4 linked regions of the Homo sapiens genome follow. The protein of the gene in region 3 interacts with the protein of the main gene of each other region in a pairwise test. Each region holds a gene or a part of one and is shown on either strand. Other genes may lie near its edges. The genes, in order: C14orf180, CMTM3, SLC71A2 and MS4A1.

What was found.
Region 1: the proteins of SLC71A2 (region 3) and C14orf180 interact in binary tests that used the Homo sapiens proteins (3 or more experiments, as listed by UniProt).
Region 2: the proteins of SLC71A2 (region 3) and CMTM3 interact in binary tests that used the Homo sapiens proteins (3 or more experiments, as listed by UniProt).
Region 4: the proteins of SLC71A2 (region 3) and MS4A1 interact in binary tests that used the Homo sapiens proteins (3 or more experiments, as listed by UniProt).

The regions. Positions count from the first base shown.
Region 1 is NC_000014.9:104,574,648-104,583,329, forward strand, and holds the start of C14orf180 (nutritionally-regulated adipose and cardiac enriched protein homolog), read left to right. Parts: upstream 1-5,116; 5' UTR 5,117-5,356; intron 5,357-6,612; exon of another isoform or gene 6,613-6,978; intron 6,979-8,682.
Region 2 is NC_000016.10:66,607,346-66,614,742, forward strand, and holds the end of CMTM3 (CKLF-like MARVEL transmembrane domain-containing protein 3), read left to right. Parts: intron 1-963; coding exon 964-1,119; intron 1,120-2,089; coding exon 2,090-2,185; intron 2,186-2,413; coding exon of another isoform or gene 2,414-2,512; exon of another isoform or gene 2,513-2,537; coding exon 2,538-2,658; intron 2,659-5,263; coding exon 5,264-5,292; 3' UTR 5,293-6,542; downstream 6,543-7,397.
Region 3 is NC_000009.12:94,440,421-94,448,133, reverse strand, and holds part of SLC71A2 (hippocampus abundant transcript-like protein 1), read right to left. Parts: intron 7,150-7,713; coding exon 7,035-7,149; intron 3,171-7,034; coding exon 2,952-3,170; intron 1,312-2,951; coding exon 1,198-1,311; intron 1-1,197.
Region 4 is NC_000011.10:60,450,648-60,459,016, reverse strand, and holds the start of MS4A1 (B-lymphocyte antigen CD20), read right to left. Parts: upstream 3,171-8,369; 5' UTR 3,072-3,170; intron 1-3,071. UniProt on the Homo sapiens protein: B-lymphocyte-specific membrane protein that plays a role in the regulation of cellular calcium influx necessary for the development, differentiation, and activation of B-lymphocytes.

The sequences.
Region 1 (8,682 bases), on a different chromosome or scaffold from region 3:
TTCGGTGAAGATTAAGAAGTCTTTTAACCGATACACCAGGTCACAGTGGCGTGTGGGGTGCATGACTTGACCCTGGGCTGGCGGCCTTCGGTCCTGTTTATAATTCGAGTCTTAGGGTCACAGTCCTCTGATCACTAGGTTAACGTCACTACTGGTCAGCCCTGCCTGAACTCCCGCAGGGAAGGGGGAGAGCGAGGCACGTCTGCCCTCCTGTCCCATCATGACTGGGAACTCAGTTGTTCCGGTTTCTCTGGAGTCCCTTTGGCCAAGAGGAGCCTGTTCAGTCGGTTGGGGCCTTAGGGTTTTATTTTTATTTTACAGCACGTAGCACTTTTGCACACGGACAGCGTGGCCCTCACAGTTCGGCGCACATGTCCACAGATGTGTGGCTTGCCTGCGCCACAGAGAATGCACGCTTCTGGTGTGAGAATGAGGCTGTGTGTGACGTGTGAATGCTCGGCCCCGGCCGGCCGCAGCCAGGTCCCTGCGGTGGGTCCTCAGGCCCGGAGACCAGGGATGGCGCCCACAGTGGGAACCTGGGCTGACCGGCTGCCCCCGGGGCCCACGCCTGCAGTCGCCCCACTGAAGCCCAGACAGACCCCCACACGGCCTCGCCTCAGAGCCCAGAACCTTCAGCAGGTCAGGCGGGGTGGTGGAAGGATCTCCCGGCCCCTCCAGCCAGCCCCTAAGATGCTGCTGGAAAAACAGCTGTGGCAGGCAGCTCGGGGGGCCCCGGCTCGGTTATGGCTTATGTACAGCCCCGACAGCCAACTGGCTTTCAGGGAGGGACCAACTTCATAGATAAAATTTGTCATCGTATCGATGGCTCCTGTAGAGAAAAAAGGACTTTTACAGCCTCTTGGAGGTCATGAATAATAGAGGAGGAGGAAAGGGGCCGCTTTGGTTAGTGTTCCGCGGGGCCCAGAGGCCCCCATTATCTCAGCTGATGGGAGCTGGGGGGGCCCCAGCAGCCTATGGTTCTCACTCGTGGAAACCAGTGTGGTCATCACCCAGGGCCCCCACCACACTCAGGGCTGGGGGCAGTGCCCATGCGTCCTGTATTCTTAATAAGGGCTCTGACTTGGCGACGGGGTGACCATACATGGCCCTGTCAAAGGGCCCTGCCTCAGTCTGAGAATGACAAGCTGCAGGCTCCATGGTAGGGGCCTGGACCTCCCACTCCGGGCCGTGACCTGGGGCAGGACTCTAGCTGTATCTGCAAGCCGGAAGAGCAGCATCTCTCCAGGCAGCCGTATGTCAGGGGCCAGTGAGCAGACACAGGGGCCAGAGCGTCACAGGTCACCCCCATATGCCCAGAGTCTGCTCCCCCGTCCTCCCACCTCCCTCCCCACCCGTGGTCTATGGGGCCCTGAAGAGTCCCCAAAGGCAAAAATCCTCCTTTGCTTGCCTCCAGTGATGGGGAACTCACTACCTTACTGTCGGCTGTTCCTCCCATGGACAGCTCTGCCTGGTGGGAAGTCCCCCCACCAGCCCCTGTGCAGAGCAGCCTGTGCCTGTGGAGCCCCAGCCCAGGTTCCGGCTCTCACCCAGAGCATGCGTCAGCCCCTCTAACCCCAAACCCACACTCCTCCCTCATTTCCCTCATTTCCTCTCCTCTTCTCCTGGACCCCACCCTCAGGCTTCACTCCCACCAACCCCCAGGGTGCCTGGGCCAAGCCCACCTGTGACCACCACGTGGCAAGTCCTGTGAGGACTTCACTCCTTGTCCCTCCTGACCTAGCACTGGCTCTGAGTGTGCCAGTGGCAAAGACCTGCTCATGCGGCCTCCACCGGCCCTGGACTCACCCACCACCGCCACCCCTGCCTGCCCTCTCCCGTAGTCCTCTCCAGGGCCTTCTCACCGTGGTCATGGTTTATGGGGCCTCTCATGACCCCATCAGCCACCGTCCCCACCCAGCTGGAGACCCTCAACCAAGCCCTCTCAGGGGGTTTCCTGTGGTCATGAAGCAGCTGACGACCCACTGCAGAGACGAGAGCTACAAAGATGCATTCCCACTGTAGCAGAGGGAGCTGGGATCAGGACAGCCTCAGCTGCATTTTCACTGCCCCAGAGGGAGCTGGGCTCAGGACGGCCTTAGCTGGGCGTTCCCACGACAGCAGAGGGAGCTGGGCTCAAGACAGCCTCAGCTGGGCGTTCCCCCTACGGCAGAGGGAGCTGGGATCAGGACAGCCTCAGCCCGGCGTTCCTCCTGCTACAGAGGGAGCTGGGCTCAGGACAGCCTCAGCTGGGTGTTCCCACTACAGCAGAGAGAGCTGGGCTCAGGACAGCCTCAGCTGGGTGTTTTCACTGCCACAGAGGGAGCTGGGCTCAGGACAGCCTCAGCTGGGCATTCCCACTGCAGCAGAGAGAGCTGGGCTCAGGACAGCCTCAGCTGGGCGTTTTCACTACCACAGAGGGAGCTGGGCTCAGGACAGCCTCAGCTGACAGGGGTGCAGCCCTGAGCCCCGGAGACGCCTGGAGAACCTTTGGACCCATTTCCACCACAAGCCCTGGTGCTGCAGTCGGCCAGCCTGCACGAATTTCCCCCCGGGCTGTATGCCAGACAGGGGAAGGGCCAGCCTCCAGGCCTCTGCGCAAGAGGGCCACGGCCAACTCCCACCCCCTGGGCCAACGCTGGCCTCTCTTGTGCCTGGGGTCCTTCTGCTTCAACCAGCTGTGGACCCCACCCCCATCTCCCCCACCCACCGGCCCTTTCTTCTCTGGCCCAGGTCAGCCTAGGGCCTCCACACCCTCCAGCCCCACCCCCGACCCTGCCTGGAGCCATGTATGAGGCCATGCTGAGGCCCAGGGCTCTCCGCACTCCAGCCAGACCATGGTCCAGGGAGAGCTGGGAGTCTAGGCCAGCACCACGTGGCCATGACCAGAGTAGCCACAATCTCCAGCCCCTGCAGCCTCCACTCCCACGTGCCGCCCTACTCCACCCCGGCCACCTTCCAGGACCACCCCAAGGAAACAGCCCAGCCCAGCCAGCTCGCTGGACTTTCCCAGCGCTCAGGAGTGCCCAGCCACTGGACATGCTCCGCCCTCCCGCTGAATGACAGCTGGCCTTAGTTGCTGTGTTCCCGGGGCACTGCTCAGGGTGGGTGCACCACAAAGATCTGGGGAGGGTGGGGCATCCGATCATTCCCAGCTCCCGGGGAGAGATGAGGGTGTGGCGGAGGTCACCTGGCTGAACAGTGACAGAGCTGGGCCCAAACCTGGGCACCACGTCATTGGCACCACTGCCCGTGGGCACATGTGCCCACCTGCCGGCTGCAGGCAGGCCTGACACAACTGGGCTCTTCCCTGGCACTGCCTGGCACAGGCACTGGGGACCCTCCGCGGACCCGGCAGCTCAGCACTCCCCTGGGCCAGCCTTATCTTGCCCTGCAGAGCCCAGGCTGGAGTGAGGCGCAATGGACGGAGGCGAGGAGGGTGCAGCCGAGCCCTATCAGATACGGCCGGAAATATGACCCCGCTGGGACCTGAGCCCTGAGCCGAGCCATCAGCTCACTAATAAATTACCCAGAGCGAATGTCCACAGGGTCAGCCCGCATCGCCTTTCCAGGGAGCACAGAGAGGGGGCGGCACCCAAGGTCTGTGGGCTGACCGTTCCCTCCCCTCTGTCAATGAGAAGGGTCAGGAAGGAGTTGTCCCGGAGCCCCCCGACCTCGGGCAGTGCAGCCTGACCTCTGAAATCTGGGAGGAGCAGCTCCAGCCCTGGGAAGCCAAGGATAAGCGCCCAGATTGGGCACAGGCGGGAGAGGGTCTTGTCTGGCTACAGGACCTCACTCTTCCCAGGAAGCCAGACTGCCAGCAGGACCACCCAGCCTTCCTCAGTGCTCTCCCTGGAACAAGCGTCAGCGAGCCAAGGCCCTCCTGCCAATCTGGCCCACCCCGTTTGTGTAGACACAGAGCGCACTGTGTGCCATATGGCCCTGTAAGAGAAAAGTTTGCTCCCCCATGCCCTGTACTGAAGACGGCAGTGAGGGGAGGGCCGGTCTGCTGAACCCCATCCCAGTGGCTGCGTTGCTCATGCTCTGACGGTGGGTTCCAGGACTCTGTGTCCATGCAGCCCCACGGCTGGCCCTGAGCAGTCACCCTCTGTGCACACTGTCCCCCAGCCTGGCACACCCTGGGCTCCCAGGGGTCCTGTAGCTTTACCCAAGGGAGATGCACCCCCATTCCTAATGGAGAAACACGGGTCTCTCCACACCTCCTCCAGCAGTCCCCTGAAACAGGTCAAAGCCCCACAAACCAGGCAGGGGTCTGCCCACATGTGGTGGTGCCCTGCGCCAGTGATGCCCTCACCAGCCTCTTTCAGACCTGCCTTTACATGCACCAGCAGACGGGGGGGCTGGCGAGGACGGGCCACCAAGCCTGAGCCAGGCTACCACCTCCGGGCTGTGTGACTCTGGACAGGGTGCCTCAACTCTCTGAGCTGCACTTTCACCTACAAATGAGGGGCAGACTCAGCAGCGCCAGGCAGGGCAGTTGGACGCCCACCCAGGACAGACCCTGAGAAAGGCTGATCCCTCACCCCTGCCATCGCTCACTGACCCATACATTGCCCCTTCCTGCCAGGGCAATATCGAGGGTCGGCCAGTGTGCCCCAAAACGGCAGCTTGGGACCCATTCTTTGCCTCTCCCTCTGGCAACCCCAGGTCAGGACTCACAGGGGCACAGGGGCCTGGGGCAGGGCGGGCACTCTCGCCACCACGGAGGCCCCATGCTGGGTCAGGGTCTTATTGGAGGCTGGACTCTGTGATCACCTCACCTCCCGCAGCCCCACAGTGCCCTCCCTCTCCCACTCTGCCCCGAATTCCAATCCATAGGTTTTTCCAAGAGCTGCACAGCTCTGGAATTGACCTGGGAGGGGGCACATTTGGGCCGGGAGGGGTAGGAACAGCAGCAAACTCTGGTCTTATCTGAAATCATGGTCTGTTGTCCACCGGGGGCCTGGGAAACAGCCACCCCCTTCTGCTCCGGGGCCAGCGGCCTGTCCTCGGGTTCACTGCTATTTCTGCCAAAGGGGAGAGGTAATTATAGCCTGGCCGCTGCCAGCTGGCCCAGCTTTGCGATCCAGCAGAGAGGGCTGGAGACGGGACGAAGGCCACAACAGACCCGGCCCTGCCAGCGGGCGGTGGCGCCTCCAGATCAGAGCCCTCGGGAAGGAGGCCTGGGCGGGCCTGGCCCGTTCACCTGTGTGCCCTGCAGTTCTGCCCGAGGCTCAACTCTCAAGGGCCTGGGAGGGGTGCTGCCGGCCAAGAGGGTCCAGGACCTCACTGGACTGTGCCCCACAGGGAGATCCCGAAGAGCCTGTTTCTGTCCCTCGGGGAGCCAGGAGGGAACCAGGTGAGTTCCAGCCCCAGGGAGAGGGGGCTCACTTCCTGCTTGGGTATGAAGATGCCAGAGCGGAGAGATTGCCAAAGGCAGGTGCAGGTGGGGAACCTGCCCCAGCTGGGCAGCAGGTGTGGGCAGAGACTGGGCAGAGCGGAGAGATTGCCAAAGGCAGGTGCAGGTGGGGAACCTGCCCCAGCTGGGCAGCAGGTGTGGGCAGAGACTGGGCAGAGCACACACTGATGATCCTGAGTGACCTGAACAAGCTCCAGAGTGGCCACCCTTCCCCCTTCTCCTGGGACTGATGGTTTCCCTAAAACGGAGACAGTCCCAGGCCGGCCCTGTGTCCACACTGAGGCCAGGCCGCCTCTGGGGGAAGCAGGGAACACGGCCACTTCAAACTTAGCAGCGGGGGTGCTCCTGGCCACACAGGAGCTTCCAAAGGGCACCTGATGTTGCGCGAAACAGCCTGGGCAGTGGGAGAAGGGGCTGCACTCTCAGGGGAATGCAGGCAGCCGTGCCAGGCATGAACCCAGCCAGCCTTCCCTGAAGGGCCTTGGTGGGGGGCATCCTCCGAGGGCAAGTCTACGCAGGCCCAGCCTAGCAGGAATGGATTCGTTACTCCAGTAACTGAAGCCTAGTTCTCAGTGTTTGGGAATCCCTGAGAACTGGCTCTTTTCTGAGCCGTCAGTCAGAAGGAATCCCTGTCCTGCCCTGTGTGGCCATGGGACCCCCACCCAGCACTGGACGCCACGCCATTTCTTGGGCACTACTGAGCTTTGCAGTGCCCTGGACAGTTGGCAAACAGCCCCCATTCCACATATGGGAGGAAGGGCCTGGGGGGGTCCCCCGCCCTGTCTGTCTGGAGCTCTCGAGGCCTAGGGTGGCCCCTGCACCCAGCAGATGAGCAGCCATCACCCGGTACTGCTGCTACCTCGAGCCCTAACTGCACCTCGGGATGTGAGGGCCCATCTAGGCATGGAGAGGGGCCTCAGGGGGCCACCAGGCAGCTCCTGCTCCTGTTCCTACCTGGTAGGGCCTGCAGGCACCTGAGCAAGCCCAGTGGGCGGTCAGCCCAGCCAGGGGCCTCCCCACAAGTTCTCCCTCTTACTTAAGTCGAGAACGCATGTTGTCTGGGGAGCTGCCAGCGTGGTTCCAGTGGTGAGCGTTGGGCTGGGAGCCAAGGCTTTTCCCAGGAGCCCAGCCACCCCGCCTGGCTGTGTTCTGCCTCCGCCCTGCAGAGGAAAGGCCAGCGAGGCAGTGTCCATGGTCCCAGTCTTCTTCCACCGGAAGAAGGCACAACCTGCATCTGCAGCCCCAGGGCCATTGGGTTAGGCCTGTGGCCAAACTACTAAGGTGCTGGGAGACTGAGGAGGCCCAGCTCCTCCTGGGGCCACCAAGCCCGTGGTTGACGGCCTCCCCATGGACCGGGCTGTCCCGAGAGCAGCAAGTCAGCCGGGGCCCTCAGGGCCGCTGAGGCCACTGCTCAGTGTCGCCGTAATGGAAACTTCTCAGCTGGTTGTGAGCCGCAACAGCTCTGGTTCACACCCTGCGACAGCGAGGCTGTGACCGCCAGTGGATCTCGGGGCTGATCAGGCCTGAGCCACCCCGGAGGTACAGCACCAGCAGGAGCCCAGGTGGGCAGGGGCAGAGAGAGAGAGAGAGAGAGAGAGAGAGTATGTATGTGTGTGTGTGTAAGTGGTGGGGGTGGGGGCTGTGAGTCTCCAGCTTCTCCCAGGGAGGTCTCTGGCTTCCCAGGAGCCTGGCCCCCTGTCTCCAGCTCCCAAGTGAGTTGCCCTGGGGGAGGCTGCACCTGGAACAGGGAAACAGGGAGCCTGGCCCCAGCCTGCACTCGCTCAGGCCCCGGGACCCTCTGCCCCTGGAAGGCTGTGAGGCTGCCGTGTGAATGGGTGCAGTGCCAGGCGAGGGGTGAGCCGGGAGTGTGGGGCCGCACGCTCAGAGCCGAGGAAGGGCAGTGCCAGGCGAGGGGTGAGCCGGGAGTGTGGGGCCGCACGCTCAGAGCCGAGGAAGGACCTCCCATGTGGGGTGGGTGGGATGTCAGGATTTCTCACGAGCCAGCTGCTGCATGGGGGGCACTGCCCGCCCCGAGGAACCCTCAGGGAGGACAGAGAAACATCAGGAGGTGGGCTGTGGGCAAAAGGGCGGGCGGCACGGGCCAGGCAGAGGCAGCAGCCTGGGAGGAGGCGGGAAGCCAGCGGGCGGCGTCCTGGAGGACGGGGCAGGAGTGGGAGGGAGCAGCAGTGGCTGGGCCCCAGAGCTTGGCGTTATCCAAGCCACAGAACCAGGCAAGAACCACTGGCCCGCCCCCACGCCCCACTGCAGGCTGGTCTCGAGGGGGAGGGACTCGGCACTGCCACGGCCGCTGGGCTCCATCAGTGCCCTCACGTCTCTCAGCAGCTTCAAGATGAGGTGGGGTCTTTGGGGTACTGGGCTAGACCCCCAAAGACTGTTGGAGGGTCACACCCCAGACCAAGGTCCTGGGCCTCAGCCCTCATGGCCCCACCTCCCACCAGCAGTACGGGCTGGTCATGCCCACAACTGGGAGCTCCGGGCCCTGACTCCCGCCTCTGTCCCAACCCAGGCTCTGAAACCTGGCAGGCTGTTCTCCCTCTCTGGGCCTCAGTTTCCCCTCCGCCAGGGAGCTCGGTGCCCCCTCTCAGTAGAGGAGCTGGTAAGAACCCCCCAGCCCCCCAGCACCAAGGGAGGCGCCATGGGGTTCCTGTTCCCAGAGTGGGGGTAGAGTCCCCTCGGGTGGACGCGCCCTCCCCAGCAGCGGGCCTAGCGGGACACTTACAGGTCCAGGCTCTGAAGCTATTTTCCGCCCTTTATCTCCCATCTGTCACGAGGCCTCCAGTTACACACTGTCCCTGCCAGAGGCCCCAGGCCTCCCCGCCCCCACCTGCCGAGCATGCCAGAGCCACTCCTTCCCTGCTTCCACTGGGGAAAATGAGGCCCAGGGAGGTCACACCACTTACCCGAGGTCACAGAGCCAAAGAAGGACAGAGCCCAGGACTTGAGCCAGACCTCTCTTCCAGAAGGGGAAGCGTGAAGCCCAGTTAGGGAGGGGATGGCAGGGCTCAGGGAGGCTGTCTGGGAGCAGAGCATGGCCCACGTGAAGGTGCATCTCTGGAGAGGGGACCGCGGAGCTCAGGGAGGCTGCCTGGGAGCAGAGCGTGGCCCACGTGAAGGTGCATCTCTGGAGAGGGGACCTCAGGGCTCAGGGAGGCTGCCTGGGAGCAGAGCGTGGCCCAGGGGAAGGTGCATCTCTGGAGAGGGCCCCAGGGCTCCCGGAGGGGAGGTGTCATCCCATAGGATGTCCT
Region 2 (7,397 bases), on a different chromosome or scaffold from region 3:
CAGCTGGCCCTGTATGAATAAGGCAGCAGGGCCTGAGGTGTCAGTGCCAACGCACCCTCTGTTAGATGTTCCTTTCTTATCATTATGAAAATTTGCAAATACATTAAAACTCCAAAAGATTTTTTTGCTTTATCTATCTGTCCATCAAGGCATTTTATCTTTTAACACAAAATAAATTGCAGACATCAGGACATTTCAACTCTGAACACTTCAGGACGCATATCATTAAGGTTCAAGGTTTTTTCTTTTCAAGGTGAAATCTACATTCAGTGACGAGCACACGTCTTTGGTGTTGGGTGTTACTTTTTGGAAACTGGTTCCTGCCTCGCTTTGATTTCCCTCCGCAGGGCACTGAGTGGAGTGCATGTGCTTGGAAGGCTGGGGCTTTCTGACTAGGTCCTGTCAGGGAGCTGGGGTGGGGTAAGGTGAGGACTCAGGGCCATGCCCAGGACTGGGAGGCAGCATAGGTGTGAGCCTGGGCCATGCTGGGTTTTTTTTTTTTGTAGGGGCGGGTGCGGACAGGGTCTCTCTCTCTCTCACCCAGGATGGAGTGCAGTGGCCTGATCACAGCTCACTGCAGCCTCGACCTCCCCGGGCTCAGGTGATCCTCCCACCTCAGCCTCCCAAGTAGCTGGGATTTCAGGCACACACCACCATGCCCGGCTAATTTTTGTATATTTTGCCGAGATGAGGTTTTGCCATGTTGCCCAAGCTGGGGTCAAATTTCTGGGCTCAAGCAATCCACCTGCCTGGGCCTCTCAAAGTGCTAGGATTACAGGTGTGAGCCACTGTGCTTGGCCTGGGATTCTAATCTGGCTCTGCCACTTCCCAGCTGCGGGACTGTGAGCAGTTGGCTTCCCCTGCTGGAACCTCCTCTATCCTGACCACAGGGCCTGGCTCAGAGGAGCACTGGACAAGGAACATGAAAAGGCTCTGACTTCACCTCAAACTCCTTCCCCGCAGGGTCTCTCATTCATCACTTTTATCTGCTATGTGGCGTCCTCAGCATCTGCCTTCCTCACAGCGCCTCTGCTGGAGTTCCTGCTGGCCTTGTACTTCCTCTTTGCTGATGCCATGCAGCTGAATGACAAGTGGCAGGGCTTGTGCTGGCCCATGATGGTGAGGACAGGGGCCCCAGGAGGGAGGGGTGCCCTGCACAAAGTGGCCAGATGAGGAGTCCAGAGTCGTGCACTTGGGCCCTTATCCTTTCTCTAGTGTGCTGGAGTTTGCAGTTGGTTAGAACTGGATGGAGAGACCCAGCTTCAGATCATCCCAGCTCCACTACTCAGCAGCCCTGTGACCTCAAGTGGGCTGTGGTGCCTCTAGAGCAGGTCTGTGAGGCAGGGAACCCGGAGAGGGGTCTCTGGCCACCAGGTGGCGCCGGTGCTCCCCACCGGGCCTACAGGAATGAGCTGCCGCCACAGGAATTCAAGCCATTTCCACGTGGGCAGGACAGGTTAACTGAGGACTTGCAGGGCTTACCCAGACTTCAGCCATCGGCAACCCTGACCTCGTTTTATCACCTGTGAGGGCCCAGACCCCAGTGGACCTCGCTGAATGAAATGTGTCCTAGAGAAAGGGCAGCAAAGGCTCAACTTGAACCCTTGTCTCTTGACTTCATATCCAGCATCTGCTGCCTCAGGAGGGCTGCACCCTCTGTGTCCCCATCTTAGGGACGGATAAGCAGAAACTGTGGTCCATGAATGGATCGGCCACAAGAGTGTGACAAAGCCGAGGCCCAGAGCCAGATCTCCCCAATGGAGAGCGGGAAGGGAGCAGGTGGGGGTGTTTCCAACTTCTGCTTCCACCGCATCGCAGGGCAGGCTGCACCCTGATCCACACAGTTTTTTGCCCAGAGCTTAGGACAGCAGCCCCGCTGGACCCGGGATAGGGCAGTGTCAGCTGCTGGCAAGGCAGCAGAGGCACCTCGGGGGTGGGACAAGGGCCTAGGCATGTGGGTGGGGCCAGGATGGGATAGGAGCCCTCAGGTGCTAGGCCTGGGGCTGGGAACACGACCAGGCTGCCAGGCCTCCTCCCCATGCTGTGCTCAGCTCCAGGGGCTCAGGGCAGCATGCCCCTCTCTCCCCAGGACTTCCTGCGCTGTGTCACCGCGGCCCTCATCTACTTTGCTATCTCCATCACGGCCATCGCCAAGTACTCGGATGGGGCTTCCAAAGCCGCTGGGGTGAGCAGCCGCCCCACCCCTCTGGAAACTGCAGATGCCCCTCTAGCCCCTCATTTAGGGTGGGACCTGGGGCAGAGCCTTTCCCTGCTGGGGCCCCCCTGGGGTCTCATGTGGGTCCCGATGATGATTCCAAAGTCCTCTCATTAAAGACTGACTCTACCCGGGGTTTTGAAAGGCTGTTTGTCAAACCAAGTTCACAGCTCATTTTCCCACTTCCGTTACTCACAGGGGTCTGTGCCTGACACTCGGGCTGTTTGTCCAAGCAGATCTGAAATGGGCCGTGAGGCTGGGGCAGCAGCCTCCCGGAGCAGGGAGTCAGCCCTGTGATGCATCCCATCCACCCTGTCCACAGGTGTTTGGCTTCTTTGCTACCATCGTGTTTGCAACTGATTTCTACCTGATCTTTAACGACGTGGCCAAATTCCTCAAACAAGGGGACTCTGCAGATGAGACCACAGCCCACAAGACAGAAGGTAAGCGGCTGCCCTGATCACCCCAGCAGTGCTGCAACAGGGGCCTGCCCTCCCTCGGGGATGCCAGCTAGTTTGAGGCTGGGGTGGGATCATTTCCTCTCTCCCCATGGCAGGAAGTGTTTTCACAGCCCATTCTCACCTACCCTCATGCAGCACTGATCCAAAGCCAGTCCCATTCGCCTCGTGCACCCTCACCCCAGCCTTTCTAGGAGGGGCAAGCAGTGGGCATGGCTGAGCCTCAGGCCAGGCCGGCAAGTCTCCCTGGACGACCCCCCTGGGCAGCCAGTCACTCTCGGGCACCTGTCCACCTGGGATCCAGAGTGGCCATCCCCCAAACCCAGCCCCTCTGCTGTCTTACCCATCCAGGCCTGTCCTGGGAAGCTCAGAGCCCAGAAAGGAGTCAGACCCAGAAACCGTGGCAAGGGACAGATGATGTGTCCCGTACCAGGGGAGGGGCCAGATGGGGCAGCAATGACGACAGTAAAACAGGAGCCGATAGAGGGAGGGATACAGTAGCTGAAAGCAGGCCCACGCTGGGTGTCAGCTGGCCCGAGGCTCTGGAGGGGACACTAGAGCTGGGTACTGACAGATGGCAGTAGAGGAGTGTGCAGGCAGAAGAGACCAGGCCGGTGTAGGGAAGAAGGCTGAGAGCAGAGACAGCAGGCGCTTCTGCCTGGGGAGATGCTTCTCTGGACCAGGCGGATGTGCCCCTGTGCTGGCAGTGCCTGTGGCTGGACAGGTAGACAAGGGCAGCTCTGGAAGGGCCTGCAGGCCCCACCCTGTGGTTGGGATCTTCCCTAGGCAGGACCAGTAGGTTAGGCTTAAGAGCCACTGGTTTCCTAACAGCCAGGTGCTGGGGCCATGGGGATTTGTGAATCCCAGAAACCGTCCTTCTGCTGAAAATGAATGCCACTCATCCCATCCCGTCCCTTGGCAAATATTAGGTTAGAGCTCCCAGGCGGTTTCCTCAGGCTCTGCAACCTGCTCCCAGTTGCCCGCAGCAAGTGATCCCAGACAACCAGCCCAGGGACCAATTAGTAAACGTCAGTGGAAACTTGGGTGGTTTTATTTTGTTTTTTTTGTTTTACTATTTGGAGAGTTTCACATATGTAACAATTATTTTGCTGTAAAATTATTCTTGACTTATATGTTAGAATTGAATATAGCAGCCAGGCACAGTGGCTCACGCCTGTAATCTCAACACTTTGGGAGGCCGAGACGGGTGGATCACTTGAGGTCAGGAGTTTGAGACCAGCCTGGCCAACACGGTGAAACCCCATCTCTACTAAAAATACAAAAATCAGCCAGGCATGGTGGTGCCCGCCTGTAATCCCAGCTACTTGGGAGGCTGAGGCAGGAGAATCACCTATGGGAGGCAGAGGTTGCAGTGACCTGAGATCAAGACATCGCACTCCAGCCTGGGCGACAGAGTGAGACTCCATCTCGGGGGGAAAAAATTGAATATAGCAAAACCCACAAAATCTGACGAGTGCAGCCCAGGAACCGGAGTGAGGGACAGAGCTGGGGTTTAGGGACTAGGCTGCCCACACCCCAGCCCTGAGCCCAGCCATGAGCCAGCGACAGCTCATGGGGACTGACTGGGGTTCTGAGAGACAGAGGCTGGCCAGGGAGGGGATGAGCATCAGGAAGTAGCAACCAGCACTGGGGTGGGGTTGGGGGTTAGTGACTCTGGTGCTTTTCCTTCTGGGGTGGAGGTTCCAGAAGGCTCTACAGAGCTCCGAGACAGAACTGGGATTTCAGGAACCCTCGAGGTACACCTCATAGGCAGGCCCTTACCATTATAAAATTGTTTCTGATTACAATATTAAACAAGGATTGGGGGAGGGGGATTGAAGATATAAAATGGCTAAAAAGAGGCTTGCTGATTTTCCAGTATATTTTAGTTTGGGGGACAAGAAAATAGCTGTCCTCACCTTGTCCTGCTGAACCTGGGGGTGGGGGTAGAGCTGGAATGCAGAGGTACAGCCCTGACCCACCCAGCTGAGAAAAGCCCAGGGAGACTCCGGAGGGGCTGGGCCTGAGGAAGGGGCACCTGGGCTTCAGTCTTGGGGTGGAAACACCCCCACCTGCACCCGCACCCACACCCTGGAGGTGCAAGTGGCTTCTGCGGCCGGGCACGGTGGCTCACGCCTGTTACCCCAGCACTTTGGGAGGCTGAGGTGGGTAGATCACCTGAGGTCAGGAGTTCAAGACCAGCCTGGTGAAAGCCCATCTCTACTAAAAGTACAAAAATTAGCCAGGTGTGGTGGCACACGCTTATAATCCCAGCTACTCGGGAGGGAGGAAGTTGCAGTGAGTCGAGATCCCGCCATTGCACTCCAGCCTGGGTGATGAGCAAGACTCTGTCTCAAAGACAAAAAACAACAACAAAAAAAAAAGAGAGAGAGAAAGTGGCTGCTGCCTGTGGAGGGCCTCAGGCCCGCGGCCTGCCCTGATGCCAGCGATCACTGGGAACGGTAGAGTCAGCTGCAGGAGGCCTGCACCCAGGCTCCTGCCAGCAACCCAGCTGTGCTTCCCCAGAGACCGTTCCCAGGCACCGCTGCCCTGAGCCTCCTGCCAAGCATCCTCTCTGCTTTCCTTTCAGAAGAGAATTCCGACTCGGACTCTGACTGAAGGCCTGGCGGGTGCCTTGGCAACCTGAGCCACACAGGCCTCCACCCCTGCGCCTCACAGGGGTCGCTGGCGTTGGAGCGGAGGCCTGGACTTCTGAGTTGCAGAGGGGGCTGCGGACACAGCAGGCCCCCTACAGCCTCAGGTTCTGCCTGAGCCCAGCCTACCAGGCTTGCCCCTCAGCTCAGCACTGTTGACCACGCTGCGTATGAGGGCATCTTGGGTATCCCACTCCTTCTCCCCATTTCTGTCCCACAGGCCTTCAGCCCTTTAACGTCTCTGCCAAAAACCAGCACAAGGAGACAAAGCAGAGCCTTGTCTGTATCTGGGCAGCAGGTGTTCCATGCTGCTAGGTGGCGGGGGTCGGGGGTCTTCTGTTTCACTAACAGGAACAAAGACAGAAACCATGACAGGGCTGCCCCGCCAGGCCCCGGTGGGTTTGTCTGCACTTGGTGCTCCTGCCCACACCAGCCACTTTGGTGACAATGACCCTTCCAAGAATCTTTGGTTCAAGGAGCACCAGTTCCCTCTTCATTCTTGAAGCAGGGAGAAATTGACCTTTGCCTTGTCGCCCAGGAAGTGGGGCTCGGCACCCATAACTAACACCTCCCACCCTTGGAAACCATGTCTTCTGGGGGTGAGATGACCATTCTGGGTCTAAGACTGTTTCAAAGAAGAGCTCATAGACTGACTGGTCCAGAAGACAGAGGGTACAACAGTGGCATCACAGTGACAGTGTCATGGGGAGCTGGGCGGGCCCAGCCAAACCCTCCTTCTTCCTAGAGCCCAGCCAGCAGGCAGGAGTTCCTGGACCCTCAGGACAGTGAACTTCCAGACCTCAGGGCAGGTCTATGGGCCACTGCAGGAGATGAGACCAGCCTTCTGTGTTCACCTAACGATTTATACTGTGTATCTGTCTTTGATGGAATTTTGTAACTTTTTATATTTTTTTATGCAAAAGCAGCTTCTTAACAGATGGCATTTTCTGTGACTCTAGGCCTCACAAAAGAGCCAGAGTTCTGGACCCATGTTTGGAGCATTTGTAGCCTTATTCTCTTGCGTGTGAATCTCTTACCCTGAAAAAAAGCCATAATGAATTAAGCCAGACTGACCACTTGCTTGGAGTGTGTGCTTGAAAAAACCAGAGCAATACTGTTGGGTATTGTATCAGGCTTCAGTACAAACTGGTAACACCAATGTGGATCCTGACAGCTTTCAGTTTTAGCAAAAATACACGTGAAATCTGACTACCATTTAATCCTTTATTTCCCTAACCTTTTTGGCACCAGGGACCAGTTTCGTGGAAGACAGTTTTTCCATGGACTGGGGGTTGGCGGGTGGGTTGGGGTGAGGGTGGGAGGGGATGGTTTCAGGATGAGACTGTTCTATCTCAGATCATCAGGCATTAGATTCTCATAAGGAGCACACAACCTAGATCCGTAGCATGCACAGTTTACAATAGGATTCGCATTCCTATGAGAACCTAATCCCACTGCCAATCTGACAGGAGGCAGAGCTCAGGCGGTAATGCCGTTGCTTGCCACCCACCTCCTGCTGTGCAGCCTGGCTCCTAACAGGTCCCATGGTACCAGTCCACTGCCCAGGGGTTGGGGACCCCTGCTCTAGTTCTCACACTACCCTGTTTTATAAACAAAGAAACTGAGACAGAGGTCGGGTAACTGGCCCAGGGCCCTCTCACTTACACATCAGGATAGTGTCTCACGGCAGCCTCAGGCAGCCGGAACCCTGGGGCTCTCCTGGTTTGGAAGCTGGTTGCATAACAGCCCAGAGGACTACAGCCCTGGAGGACCCGGGTCCGCATTCTTATCCAGGCTGATGGGAAAAGACAAGACATTCCACCCAAACTGTCACACACCACATGTGCTGAAAATGGGTAAGAAAGCTGGGTGTGCAGGAGTGGAGAGGCCCCTGGTGGAATTTACATTCCACCTTGTAAGCCCTGGCAAAGCGGCAAAGCTGGTGTCACAGAGGCCTTGTTCCACCCTGAGGATCGTGGCTCTGTTCAACCTCCACACAGCAGCCCTATTTCAGGAACTGGATCCGTAACGTTTAAGGGGCAGAGGAGGCCACTCAGAGTGAGGAGAGAC
Region 3 (7,713 bases):
AAATTTAATTAATATTATTAAAGATTAAAACATTACAGTACATGAATGTTACAGCAGCTTTATGCACAACTGTCAAAACTTTAAAGCAAGTAAGGTGTCGTTCAGTGGGTGAATGGATAAACTGGCAAATCCAAACAAATGCCAAAAACAAAATGAGCTATCAAGCCATGAAAGAACCTTAAATGCATATTATTAATTGAAAGAAACCAATCTGAAAAGGCTACATACTGTATGAAAAAAGGTAAAACTATGGAGACAATAAAGAGATCAGTGGTTGCCAGGGGTTGGTGGTGGAGGGAGAGATAAACAGGCATAGCATAAGGGATTTTTGCAGTGAAAATTCACTGTGTGATACTGTAAGGGTTGATACATGTTATCATGTCATCATACGTTTGTCCAAACCCATAGAATGTACAACACTAAGCATGAACCCTAATGTAAACTGTGGACTTTATGTTAAGATAATTTGTCAATGTAGGTTCATCAGTTGTAAAAATTTCCCACCCTCGTGGGAGATGTTGATAGTGGAGGAGGCTATGCATGTATGGGGATAGGGGATATATGGGAAATCTCTATATCTTACTCTCAATTTTGCTGTGAACCTAAAACTGTTCTAGAAAAATAGTCTATTTAAAAAAAAAAAAAAAAAAAACAGGCTGGGCACAGTGGCTCACGCCTGTAATCCCAGCATTTTGGGAGACCGAGGCGGGTGGATCACTTGAGGTCAGGAGTTCGAGACCAACCTGGCCAACACGGTGAAACCCTGTCTCTACTAAAAATACAAAAATTGGCTGGGCATGGTAGTGCACGCCTGTAATCCCAGCTACTCGGGAGGCTGAGACAGGAGAATCGCTTGAACTCAGAAGGTAGAGGTTGCAGTGAGCCAAGATCGTGCCATTGCACTCCAGCCTGGTGGACAAGAGCAAAACTCCGTCTCAAAAAAAAAAAAAGATAAATTATGTTTCTGCTAATTCTGGTTAATTCTCAAGAAAAAAAAATTTCCACAGTAATTATCTTACTATAAATCATTGCATTAAAGGTGCCCTGTTTACTAATTATATGCCAGCACCTACATTTGTAACTAGAAGCAAGTTCACATGTTTTTTCCTCTGCAGTGGTTTCCTCAAAATATCTTTAGACAAATCTCCATCTTTGATTTTCCTGGTATTGAAAGGCTACTAGCCACTCACTACTCACCTGCCTGAGATAGAGAAAAAAACTTGAATACTGTCCAGCTTCAGGAAGGTATGAAAGAAACACGGTGATGCAGATTAGTAAGACAGTAGAATCTTTTCCAACTTTCTTCAACGACTGAGAATAAGCAGAAAGAACACACTTAAAATGCCAATACACATTAATGTTGCCAATGTTCTGGGACATCAGCTTCATTATTTTGATCTATTAAGATGAATAACAAAAGTCAAATGGTTAATAAAAGGAAGTTCTATCACCATCTTTCTGAGGAAGTTACAAGTCTTAATTTCAGAGGTATATATTTCAAATCATATAGCTAAAAAAAAAAGCAAAAAAATAAACCCACAAAACACACTTACTCATCTTTGTTAACACACTGATTAAAATCCCTGAACAGATCCCGAACTTCCTATAAACAGAACCTGGAAATATATTCCTACAGAACCTTTTAAGAAAATCACTTCTCTCAATTCATAATGTAACTTCTTTAAAGCCATATTCAGTACAGAGCGTTTCCGTATAGGTAAATTCACTCTATTCTTCAAAGTGTTCATGTTCAACTTTTATATCTGGTAGACAAATAAGTACGCTCCAGCCATAAGGTCAAACTGGTAAGAACTTGTTGAATGTTACAACCTTGTTGAAAAATCCTTCTTACATACATTGGATTGTTGAATAGAACAAAATGGTAAGTTAATACCAAAGGAGTGGAAAGTGCTACAGAGCTTCTAGCTCATCAGACCATAGCTTTTATGTAATTAATAAGCAAAAGCAGCTAATGTTGTTGAGACTTTGCTGGGCAACAGACACTAGGCTAGTTAATTTACACACATTAACAGTAATCCCCACGATTGCCCGGAAAAGTAAGCCACAGTAGCTCTACTTCACAGAGGAGCTTTGATGCATAACTTGATCACTACAAAGGAAGGTGGGAAGCCTAACTGGCTGGCTCCCAACCCCACTACTGGCTTCCTTCTCTAAATATTTCTTTTGGTGTCTGACATTGTGACAATAATAGAACAGGCAGGATCCCTAGGTCATGCCCTCAGGGGGTATTTTAGAAAAAGTAATTTCTGATTGATTACATGAATTTTTCTGAAAGGTAAACTTGGGGGACGAAAAGCAGAAACCAAACTGCTGGTTCTTTTTTTGTCTACAAACTTTTTTTTTCCCCAAGAACAATTTCAAACCAGGTAGGGTAGAGAGAAGGTGAGAGATAAGATATGTTTTCCAGTGACACACCACCTTCCCATGCCAAAAAAGAAGGGGGTGGAAAAGGAGAGGAAAGGGAGGGAGGTAGAGAGGGAGAGAGAGACATATTATAGAAAACAATACTCAATCTGTAACAAACAAATTAAACGTCTCTGGTCAAAATTAAAATAACTCATTCAAACCAAAGGCATTTATCCTTTTTGAGTTAAAATGAGTGAAAATGACCACTTCAAATGACCACTTTCACTTATTTTGTTTAAAAAGGATGAAAACAACCATGCAAAAAGAAACTCTCTTCCCAAACTCTCACCAAGAATTAACTAGACATTTTCTCTCTCTTCGTTTATGACATGCTTAAGTACCAATTCTATATATTTCTTAATACAAAGACTAACTCAATCCCTTACTTGCAATTAATTTTTTCTATTTTTACTAAAGAAATAAGTCAACAACTGCTAGGATCCTTGAGGCTGCACATACATACTTTCATTTGCTTGGCTTAGAAAGACATTTAGGAAAGTAAATATTTCCATATTTTTATTTACCGCAAAAGGGTCTGCTTGTTTCCAAGAAATCTGAGCTCCCCAGGAAACCGGTCTCATTTTCTCAGGCAGAGATTCTGGAACAGCCACTAAGATGAAGCAGATGTCCAGAAGAGCCACCACTGTGGCCACCAGCACAACGAGGCTGTCTCCGTAACTGGCAGAAAGATATGCTCCAATGGCCGGGCTGCTGACAAGACTAGCCGCAAAGGTGGCTGAGACCTGTGGGAAAGCACACTCTCACCCAGGGTCCCATAGGTGAACACCTCTGGGGAAAGCATATCCTTACCCAGGTCTGCCTGCTGCAGGTGCACACCTTCAGGAAAGCACACTCAACCAGGGTCCCACAGGTGCATACCTGCAGCCATGCTTCCCTGGCTTTAAGTAAGACAAAAGAAATGTGTTGCATATAAATTTTAAGAATGAAAGAGAATTAAAGTGATTTAAGAATGTGTTCATAAACTATTAACTGGAGATACCCTGCAGAGCTACAAGAGTAAAAAAGGATTATCTTATTACAAACAAAAATTGTAAAAACCTTCCCCACAAATAAAACATTAGCTCTTTGGTCTTCTTTAACTGGGGACCGGGGATGTGAGATGGTATGAAAAGAATTCCTGCAGGGCTGATGATAAAACTTACAAACTACTCAAGTACTGTGCTTGATTTAATCTTCTAAAAACACTGCACTGTTTGAACATTTTATCATTTGGTGGTCATTTCATTAGCACTGCCTGGGGTCAGGGGGAACCCTCTGCTATTCTTAGAAAAAAACTATTAACAACAACAAAGAATTTGTTGAGGTGGAAGTTGAAGCTTTTTGACTAGACAGCTGTAGATTTCTGTCTCTCTGTCACCACCTGACCCTATCCAGTATAGAGACCACAGAGCCAGCTAAGCACACCCACAACCTGAAGCCACCTTGAGCCCCTTCACAGTGCACTCCTATAAGCATGTGGAATGTCCACTTTATTTTAGAACACAATCTGGATGGTCAGATGCTTATCGGGCAAACTCCAAATTATAACCACACTAAATGTCAAATGCATATCTATAAGTTAGCTTTTTAAACTTCTAATGGATTTTATTAAAAATCCCAAAATTTCTGGCAATAAAAAATTCTTTTTCATCCATCATCTCCCAACTGAATTAAAAAACACAGTATATCTGAAATTAGTATTATACTAAAAGTACTATAAAAGCTAAAACTCAAGTATTTTTGGAGGGGAAAAAAGAATGTGGAAAATTCCAATGTGGGGAATAGGAATCCTTTGTTCAATATTTACTGAGAATCTACTATGTACCAGATGAAGAAGACAAAGCTCTTGCCCTCAGGTTTTCCCACTTTATTCAAGAATATCAGGGCAACCAAATAACTGCATTATAAACTGCAACGACAAGCAAACAGTTATGGGAACATTCCTACACTCTTCTCAGGTGTTAAGGGGGCACTGCTGCAGCATCTTCAGGTGTTAAAGGGTCTATGGCCTCATGAAACTCTATGCAAAATGTGTCTATCTTAAAGCCTAAAGTAGCCTACTTGCTTAGTCTGTGTTTTTATCTAAACTCCTCTTTCACTTAACATTCAATACAACTCTGATGAATAAATCTAAAGAATGACTTCCCCACAACAAACTCTTAGTAAGTGTTAACTCACTTATTAACATGACTAATCATTGCCGTAGCCCTGAAAGAATTACCACTTTCTTGGTTTACTGAAGAAGTCTGAGTAAGGAAGGTGTACACATTTTTATACTGTTCTTTAATGGGTCTCAAAATGCTCCTTAGAACTTGACTGACACGTTCTGTAATTAATTGGCAATAAATTCTCCTATATCTAGAAGATAGGTAGACTGCAATCCAGGCAGCCTTGCATGCTGAGTTGCTTCTGCTGGCTGGGAGCACACTTCAGCTAAGTGCCGTCTCAGTCTGGATGTGTGCGCTCACTGATTGCTCTCAATGCCCCTGTGAGTAGATATTAACCCTAACTGCCATTATACAATGAGGAGCTGAGCTGGAGAGGGTAATTAAGTCACAGGCGCTTCTGGTTAGAACTCTCTTAAATCTTTCCTGAAAGCACTACTGCTCAGCACAACAGCTGTGTGAAGGGTTTCCCAGCTGAAAGCGAGAAACAAAAATCAAATATTGCAGAAAAATGAGTATCTCAACAGGTATTTCCCATGCTGTAGAAGAAAGCTGTCCCTCACTACTCTGTTGGCCAAGCCTTATGGGCACAACTTGAACAACCTACCTTCTTGTTTTTGTTTTTTCTTTTCTTTTTTTTGGCAGGGCGGGGGGAGGTTGTTAATTTTTGGAGTTTTGGGGGACATTTTTTTTTTTGAGGCGGGTCTGACCGTCGCCAGCCTGGAGTGTAGTGGCGCGATCTTGGCTCACTGCAACCTCTGCCTCCTGGGTTCAAGCAATTCTCCTGCCTCAGCCTCCCAGGTAGCTGAGATTACAAGCGCACACCACCACGCTCGGCTAATTTTTGTATTTTAGTAGAGACGGGGTTTCACCATGTTGGCCAGGATGGTCTCGATTTCTTGACCTCATGATCCGCCCCCACCTCAGCCTCTCAAAGTGCTGAGATTACAGGCGTGAGCCACCGCACCCGGCCTATTTTTGTTTTTGGTGTTCCTGAGTGAGCTCCAAATCTTGTCTTCTTCGAAGCTTTCCTATCAGCTTCTATCTTTGTCCTCCTCCATCACGACTCTGAAGATGCCCCTTTTTAGGGCATGACATGAGAGGGACATTCAGGAGTGGAGGGAAGAAGCAAGGAGAGAGAGAGAGGGAAGGTAGAAGAGTCAGAGGGAAGTGGGGTTGAAAGAGTAGTTTTCAAACTACTGATGTCTAAAGTCAACAAGTTAAAAATTGTTGTGTTTTGTGGAATAGTAGTAACCCATTTATATGCCCATCATTGATTCAGGAAGTTATTCATTCAGTCAGCAATGAATGAGAACTTACTCTACTCCAGGAAGTAGATTTAAAAGACCCAGGAAAAGGAGATAAATAACCTAAGTTTCTGGCATTCAATCTCCCTCCAACCTATTCCCCACAACCTAGCCAGATCATCTTTCTTCTTCCACTTTCTTATTCTGAATATTTTCAAATACAGAGGAAGACGGGAGAAGGGTACCAAGCATACTTCCATGTCTCACAGGTTCAGGCATGGAACACACATGCCCACACATGCACATCCACATGCTATGCTATCTTTTCCCCTGAAACATCTGAAAGTAACTGGCAGAGTCCTGACACTGATGTAAAACGCTTCAGCTATCTTCTAACAAGTCTTTCTTCTACATAATCATAATGCCATTATCATGCCTGAGAAAATCAGAAACACTGTCAGGTTTTAATTATCAGAAAAAAAGGTCTCCTATAACTTTTGTTATTCAGCAACTATGGATTTGATGAATGAGTGAATGTAGTCCTTTTCTACATACCATGTTCCAAATGTATGTCCAAAACACACAACCACTAATAGAGTTAACAATGGATTAACATTGCTGAGGTTCAGCACCTCTCCAAATTAGGTGCACAAAGAGCTTGTGCAACTTGACTGCTTAACGCTCCTCCGGGGATCAGATAACAAGAAACAAATCAAACTAATTTTTTAAAAAATTCAAATGTTCAATTGTAATCCCCAATGTTGAAGGTGGGGCCTGGTGGGAGGTGATTGGATCATGGGGGTAGTTTCTCATGAATGGCTTAGCACCACCTTCCTTGGTTGTTAATAGTAAGTGAGTTCTTGTGAGATCTGGCCGTTTAAAAGTGTGTAGCACCTCCCCCTTCACTCTCTCTTCCTCCTGCTCCAGTCATGTGAAGATGCCTGCTCTGGCTCTGCCTTCCATCATCATGAGTAAAAGCTCCCTGAGGCCTCCCCAGAAGCAGAAGCCTCTATGCCTCCTTTATAGCCTGCAGAACTGTGAGACAATTAAACCTCTTTTCTTTATAAATTACCCAGTCTCAGATATTTCTTTACAGCAGTGCAAGAAAGGACTAATAAACTCACTTTCCAGTAAATTTCTAATACAATGTTAATTACTATTCTGGTTAAAAAATATATATAGTCTATTATCTTACCCATCCATAAGCTGTACTTCGCTCGTGCTCCTGAGTGACATCAGCTACATAGGCAAATATAACAGAAAACGTGACCGAGAAGACTCCAGACACAGAAATCATCGCAAAATACCACCTATAAAAAGATTATTTTAATGACCCAAGGGAAAGGGAGTGTATGTTCACTTTCATTACCTGAGCCAAAGACATCATGTAAAGATTACGCACCAAGAAATAAGTATACTTGTATATGTATGTATACTTAAATATATCAAAAAAAATTTAAGTTAAGACAGGAAGAAGTAGAAACATTCTAATTTCATCATTGTTCAAAGGGGGTCAGTACATGCCCCCTAAAAAAACAAAAGAAGAGGAAAAACAAAGAATAAGGGGATTAGGTAAAAGTTATATTTTTAAAGGTAGCCAACAGACAGAAAAAAAACTTCTCAAATATCCTAGCTGTAAGTAAGGAAAAGACATACAACAAATGATTTGAAAAGATCTACATAAAAGCAGAAGTCATAATGAAAAATATTAGTGTACTTAAGACTAAAAATTTATATCATGTGATAGATGCTTTTTTTAAAAACCCAGTTTAAAATTAACAAAGAAAAACCTTATAGAACAAAAAGTGGGGTTTACTCCAGGATAGAAAAATATTTTAATATTTAAAAATCTATTAATATAATTATTCATTTTA
Region 4 (8,369 bases), on a different chromosome or scaffold from region 3:
TGGCAATAATGACCATGAGGGCTGTGTGTGTGTGTGTGTGATATTTCTCTGTTAAAATGGTATCTCATGGTGGCAACTATACTTCTACAAACCTTAAACAAATATTTGTATAAAATAGTAGTTTATAAAGAAACACATGAGTGCTTTCTCTGTTTTTTTATTTCTTATGGAAACTATCTTTCATATATATATCTGATTATATATATATCTGTCTCATATATGAGAGGTAAATATATTAATCGATTTATGGCATTGTGGGCTGACTGTAATGAAAAGCTTTCGTTCCATGAGAATTCATAAATACATAAAACTCGCCTACGGAGATTGGAGATTCTCGCAATTTTGCCTTATCATTAAAATAAATTGTTCACAATGACTTAGTGCCCAATGCACAGTTATGCTCAAAGACTAGTTGGTAGATTAGTAGGGGTTATGGACCACATTAGCCGCAATATGATAACAATAAGATTTTACATTTGCTGGTGTCCAAATCAGCATGAATGTTAAAATAGAGACTCAGGTGATCACTCAGTACCGCATTTAATTACTCACACTAACTCCTGCAAATATTTTTTTATTTTTAAAGGCACCCCTGTTTTCATGTCCATCCACTGAATAAGATCTCACAGCCTTTATGGGTTTTGGTTTGAATAGACTTTTAAGTCCACTCGTACCATCATGTACTGAGAAGTTTAAAAACTGCCTCACTGTTGTTACCTCATCTTCATTCTCTTCCACTCAAAATAGTTTTGCATTTTTATCCCTTCTGGCCTCCTGTGCACCTATCTCCGAGGAAGAGTGCTCTTACTTCCCTTCCCTCTGTGCTTTTCAGCCCATCTCAGTCCAACCAAGCTGTTAGCCCTTCCAAGAAATTATTTCTTCTTTGCACCTTCAGTCTCCCAATTTCTGGCAATATGTAGCAGACAGAGTTAGTCCCAGCTCTCTTGCTTGCTCCTCTTGTGGTCTCTCTGTAAGTTTAAGGTAATAGTTACCTTCCCCATTTCAAAGTATCATTTTGAGAATATGAGATAAGTTGCATTTGTTAAGGTGCTAAATACTCCTTTTATGACTAAAATGTACTTCAGTGTCCCTGAATCCCAAAGTCCTCTTCTTTTAATCTAGCAATGTCCTTGCCCACTGCCCAGGCTCACTTTTTCTTCACCGCAGCTGCTTCAAAGCTTTGCTACCCACTCTCTTCCCCCACCTCCTCTCCACCCACTCACTTCTCAATGCTTGGCAACTAGTTTCCGCCAGTCAGTGGACTGAAACTGGTCTTTGAGGACTGTGCTGTGAAGTCAGTGGTCTTTTCTCAGGCCTCGTGTCTCAGATTGTTTTATTTGTTTCTCCTGCCACCCAGGCTTAGATAGTTGGGACCACATTTCACTTTAGCTCCATCATCTCTCAGTCCATCTTCATCTTGGCTGTTGGTCAGTCAGTGGCCAAGTCATGCCATTTCTACCTCTGCAATACATTTTGCATGTGGGTCTTTTTTCTATATCCAGAGTCACCTGTGAGTTTCTCATTTCCATTCATGCTTTTCTGCCTTCAGTCTTTCTCTTTTCTAATCCATTGTCCACAAGGCTGCTACATCAAGCTCCCGATCACTGTTTTGAGTGATGCTCTTCCTGAGCCTGAACTCCTTTGCTGGCCTGTCATTACCTGCTGGAGAAACCCTTCATCTAACCCCTCAAGGCCTTTGGAATTCAGCCCTGTATGACTTCCCAAGCTCATATCCCACTACCGCCACCAGAGCCACTGGTCTATACATGTCCTCTACCTTCTTTCCTGAATCTTCTCAACTTTGAAGTGTTCCTTCTCCCTCCCTCTTTACTTTCAATCAAACTCTGCATTAGATATGCACATCACCTGAGGGCGTTCCTGCTCTCCTTGCCTGATTGCAAGGAATTCTTCAGAGCTCCTAGCTCTTTGCTTTCCTTACTAGACATCAACTACTTTCTTCGGAGAATCCTGTATCCTACTAGACTTGCATAGGGAACCTGTTTTCTATGTACTATGAGCTCAGTTACATTAAGCTGAACATCAAACTCAGCTACTTCCTCAGGGAAGCTTAACAAGTGCTCACAATGGCCAGGTGCAGTGGCTCACACCTGTAATCCCAGCACTTTGGGAAGCCGAGGCAGGTGGATCCCCTGAGGTCGGGAGCTCGAGACCAGCCTGGCCAACATGGAGAAACCTTGTCTCCACTAAAAAATGAACAAACAAACAAAACACACACACAAAAATGCTCACAATGCTGGATTAAACATTTCTTTCCACCGGATTCTCAGTGAGATTAAGCCATTTTATGGGAAACAGGGAAAGGGAATCACTTATATACTGGATTCAGAAAACAGTAATGGCATGATTAAAATTAATCCTTGTTTTCCTTCATTAGAGCTCCCCCACATCTGCAGCGCCCCCTCTTACTCTTGGTTTCCCATGTGATAGATTTGAGGCAGGATTTCATGCTCAACTTGGTGTCCACAAATCCCCTCCAGAAAATGTTAGCCTGTAAAGCCACCTATACTTCTAGGTATATTTACATTTAATGTAGACAAAAGCATTTACAGGAAGACAAATGGAGTTTTTTTCATTATGCCTATGACTGATTATTTTCTCATTTGGTATTGGGAAGTCCTAAGGGATTCAGGATTTTAGTTCCAATTTTCCTAATGTAATGGGTACCATTGCCCCCATTTTATAGATGAGGAAGCTGAGGCTTTAGAGGTTTAGTAATTTGCCCAAGGTTATATTGTTTGTTAGTGGTAGAGCTCCAGTTTGAACCCAATGGTTTAGAAACCATGATTTAATATATATGCTGCAATCTACTACTTTTGTGGAATGATTCACAGTTGACTGCATAGGGTAATTGTTGAGAGGGAGACTGATTAGAGGAGTGAGTGGGCAGCAAGCCTTGATATCGTCACCCCTCCTTAAGTCATAGAACTATTAGGAAGTCTGACTAGGGAAACTCTAGAATTAAGATCAAGAACCTCCAGTCTTCAAAACCATTCTATACCTTATCCATCACCTCCTTTAAGTCATTTAAAGAAAGCAAATTGATTCCTTACCTGAGTCTCCAAGGCCTCAAATCTCAAGGGCTGATTTGGATGCTAGCTGCGGAGTTCAGTGGGTGCAGTTTGTTTCTCAAGCACACTGGGAGGGTGAGTGGTGTAGTCCAGGCCTGAAGATGAAATCGCTGATAGACATCAGGTGACAGGAAATCAGTAGCTTCTGCTACCTTGGGCTTCGCTCCAATTACTTTGGTTTAACACTTACCATAGCTGAAGGAGGTGCAAAAAAAGTTTCTGCCTTACCAGGTTTCACTTCTTGAAAAAGACCCCAGGGGACTGCCTGGCATGCTCATGCTACCTTAATTAGAAGAACTTCTGCAGCCCCCACCCTATAAGCAGGTGTGGATGGTAGGTCCCTGAGGACAAGAAAGATTCTAGAAGTTGGTCAAAGATGGGCCGTTAGCACTGACTTTTACCTTCTGGCTTCACTTTTAGGGCTGAGTAGGTGGGCAGGAGGCATCCATGCAGAGATTCAAGAATCACTGAGGCTGTACACTTGGCAGCACTATACTTAGGGGTCCCCAAATATTGTCCTCATTGGCTCACACTTAAGTTTCTTATGAACCATGTATATATCTTGTGTCAGATTTAGCAGAAATGGCCTAAAATTATACTTTAGTGCCATAGTACATGTACCCAGCCACTCAAAGCAAGAATTAGCCTCCATATTTGGAAATATAAATTGAAATAGCACTTTTACCTCTGAACCCACCTTTTTCTTCTGTCTGTCAAGTTCCCTTGTGTCCCCTCTCTTTTTAGTCTAGTCTGGAGCTGCAGGGTCATCAAGCACAGTACTAGATCAAGTAGGGAAATGGAAGAAGTTGGTAGTGTCAGGAGAGTCTAAATATTTGGGATGTGAATCAAAGTTTTGCCCAAAGATAATGTCCTCTCTCTCCCCCTACAATATTCAACTTTTATGTTCATATGTGGGATTTTTAATTACATTTTTATTTCCCTGTTCATTGCTTCATTTTATTAGAGACACAGAGCTATAGTTAGGTAATTATTTGTTTATTTAATCTAAAGGGATGAAATATGGCAGGCAGCTCTGTTGCCTAATTCGAGGTTCATTCCTGTCTCTCTCTTTCATCTCTTCTCTCTTTCTCTTTCTGCCTCTCTTTTTAAATTTAAGATAGTTTGGAACCATAGGGTTAGATCCACTGGGTAGAAGTAGTTCTGGGGAGGCTGATTGTGGTGTGATATTTAAAAAGATGCCACTCTAAAAAAAAAAATTGTTGGAGCCGTTCATTAGGGGAACTGGCTACCATTTCAATAGAGAATTTACTTCTTCAAGAATACTCAAGTAAAGTCATGCAGTCACCTCTCAGAGATGCTGTAGAGTGAAGGAGAGTGGGAACAGAAGATCCATCATCCATTTAACATTCTAATTGAGGGTCTATGCATATCTGCTGAAATGCTTGAGTGATTGGTGATGGGAGGACAATTACCTAGGGTCTGAGTTGTGGATGATTGTGAAACCTGAGGTTTGAGTCCTGGATGGTGGGGTGGTTAGAGGCATGTGCCTTCATTTTAGTTGGCATGGGAACAGGGTCAGGACTTGGCAAATGTATGGCAGCAAAGGGGCTTGAGTTGTGGCAGCACAACCTGGTCTTTTGCATCCTTTTCTCTGTTTGAGCCCTGTATTTCCCCAGTCAGTCTCAGGTTGTTTGCTACTTTGTGGCCAATGAGATAACTTAGGTGGCTCTATGTATGATTCTTCCCAAATAAACTTGAATTTGAATTTGTATGAATGCATAAACATTTACCTTGTCTTTGCTCATTTGAATGATCAACATTTTAGTGCTTGAGTGTGTTGAAATTCTCACTACAATTTGGACTTGTCAATAGCATCTTATTTGATGTATCACCATCACTCTTCCCCCAAGGTTTGAGAATATTTTATTAGGTTGATAACATATTTAAAATATTTCTCTTTGAATTAAGCCTATTTTCATTATCTAGTGACCTTGCTTCCAAAAGACAATCTTAAAGTCTACATAAAAGTATGCCAACTTTTATTTAGTTAGTATTTTCCTGATGTGAATTTCCTTTTTATTCTCTGCACGTCCCAGCACTCCAATTTTTTTAATCATTGCCTTCTATATGAAAACTGTGTGCTACATCATAATTATTTGTGTCCTTGCCTTAATCAGCCATTGTCTCCTTGTCCCTTGAAGGCAGGGTCAGTTTTTGTGATTGCTGTGTCCCTGGCAGTGCTGAGAAGGAATGGTTCTGTTTGGCTTTTTCTTTCACCCAGGTGATTGTCCCCAGGCTCTCCAATATTAGGAAGTAACATTATGCCACGTTCTCAACTTCTCAGCAAGGCCCTGGCACCCAGAATTATCTGCTGTTGGAGGGTTCTGGTGTCAAAGAATTGGTAAGGGAGACATAGGGCTCGTCAGAGGTGAGGCTAAAGATCTAATTGCAAATAGAACTTGGTTACAGGTCAGAAAATCCCATTGTTGCACTTATAAATAATTCATAGTAAGGAAAATGTAAATTGAAATACTTAAGAACTTTATAGTTGATAGGGTCTTCTTTCTCTTCTAAGGGACTATACATTTGGAACAGCTAGGAAGGTAATATTAGTTAAATAATTCCTTTTATGTCAAGAATTGTCCACATATAAGCCTTACCACACATATAATATTGATTCTGTTTTATAATTGTGGAAACTAAATTTCAGGAAATGGAGGAAGCCATTCCCAAGTTGGAAAGCTGGTAAATGGTAAAATAAGTGATGTTTAGAGCAAGAAAATCTCAATTATAAATTTCAAAAACTAGCATTTACTAAGTGATTTTTAAGTTCCAGGCACTGATAAACTCACTTTCCATGTTTCATTTAAGGTTCACAGTAAACCCATTAGGTAGGTATTACTATTATTGCATTCTAGTCTAAAAATTTTAAGCCCGCAAAGATTAATTTGTTCAAGTGACACAGCTTTAAATGGCAAAACATTTATTATTATTCGTTTTAAGATATAAAAATGTCTGATGTACTCCCATGTGCAGATTACTGGATCACTCCCTTTGCTTTTGTGACGTGGGAATATAGCTGAAGAAAAAAATGCAATTATGACCTCATAGTTATTGAAAAGAGTTTTTTCTCTTATGTACCAATAAATATGCTATCATTGGAGATGAAGTGTTACTGATATGTAACGGTAACATTTTTCTGCAGGTGTTGACTATAAAAATATCATTATGTGATAAAAAATTTAATGAAAATAAGATGTTGTTTTGCTTTCTCAATTATATTTCTCAAAAAATTAAATAATATGTATGAAAAAGTACTTATAACAGTGAGACAAGAAACCATGTGCCCACAGCCATGATTAGAGATACAAGAGTGTCACTGATACCTTTGAAAGCTCTCAGGTTATCCTTCCCCAAGCCACCCTCTTTATCAGAGCTCACAATTATGCTGAATTTGGTGTTTATCACTCTCTTCCTTTTCATTGTATTTTGACTTTCCACATATGCTTACATTTCACACGGACATATTGCTTAGTTTTTGTGTTTTCTTTTTTTTTTTAATTTATTTATTTTTTATTGATAATTCTTGGGTGTTTCTCACAGAGGGGGATTTGGCAGGGTCATAGGACAATAGTGGAGGGAAGGTCAGCAGATAAACAAGTGAACAAAGGTCTCTGGTTTTCCTAGGCAGAGGACCCCGCGGCCTTCCGCAGTGTTTGTGTCCCTGGGTACTTGAGATTAGGGAGTGGTGATGACTCTTAACGAGCATGCTGCCTTCAAGCATCTGTTTAACAAAGCACACCTTGCACCGCCCTTAATCCATTGAACCCTGAGTGGACAGAGCACATGTTTCAGAGAGCACAGCGTTGGGGGTAAGGTCACAGATCAACAGGATCCCAAGGCAGAAGTTTTCTTAGTACAGAACAAAATGAAAAGTCTCCCATGTCTACTTCTTTCTACACAGACACGGCAACCATCCGATTTCTCAATCTTTTCCCCACCTTTCCCGCCTTTCTATTCCACAAAGCCGCCATTGTCATCCTGGCCCGTTCTCAATGAGCTGTTGGGCACACCTCCCAGACGGGGTGGTGGCCGGGCAGAGGGGCTCCTCACTTCCCAGTAGGGGCGGCTGGGCAGAGGCGCCCCTCACCTCCCGGGTGGGGCGGCTGGCCGGGCGGGGGGCTGACCCCCCCACCTCCCTCCCGGACTGGGCGGCTGGCCTGGCGGGGGGCTGACCCCCCCACCTCCCTCCCGGATGGGGCGGCTGGCCGGGCAGAGGGGCTCCTCACTTCCCAGTAGGAGCGGCCGGGCAGAGGCGCCCCTCACCTCCCGGACGGGGCGGCTGGCCGGGCGGGGGGCTGACCCCCCACCTCCCTCCCGGATGGGGCGGCTGGCCTGGCGGGGGACTGACCCCCCCACCTCCCTCCCGGACGGGGTGGCTGCCGGGAGACGCTCCTCACTTCCCAGACGGGGTGGCTGCCGGGCGGAGAGGCTCCTCACTTCTCAGACGGGGCGGCTGCCGGGCGGAGGGGCTCCTCACTTCTCAGATGGGGCGGCCGGGCAGAGATGCTCCTCACCACCCAGACGGGGTCGCGGCCGGGCAGAGGTGCTCCTCACATCCCAGACGGGTCGGCGGGGCAGAGGCGCTCCCACATCTCAGACGATGGGCGGCCGGGCAGAGACGCTCCTCACTTCCTAGATGTGATGGCGGCTGGGAAGAGGTGCTCCTCACTTCCTAGATGGGATGGCGTCCGGGCGGAGACGCTCCTCACTTTCCAGACTGGGCAGCCAGGCAGAGGGGCTCCTCACATCCCAGACGATGGGCGGCCAGGCAGAGACGCTCCTCACTTCCCAGACGGGATGGCAGCCGGGCAGAGGCTGCAATCTCGGCACTTCGGGAGGCCAAGGCAGGCGGCTGGGAGGTGGAGGTTGTAGCGAGCCGAGATCACGCCACTGCACTCCAGCCTGGGCACCATTGAGCACTGAGTGAACGAGATTCCGTCTGCAATCCCGGCACCTCGGGAGGCCGAGGCTGGCGGATCACTTGCGGTTAGGGGCTGGAGACCGGCCTGGCCAACACAGCGAAACCCCGTCTCCACCAAAACCAGTCAGGCGTGGCGGCGCGAGCCTGCAATCGCAGGCACTCGGCAGGCTGAGTCAGGAGAATCAGGCAGGGAGGTTGCAGTAAGCCGAGATGGCAGCAGTACAGTCCAGCTTCGGCTCAGCATGAGAGGGAGACTGCGGGGAGAGGGAGAGGGAGAGGGAGAGAGCAGTTTTTGTGTTTTCTAATCATTATTTAGGTAGAATTAATAAGATGTT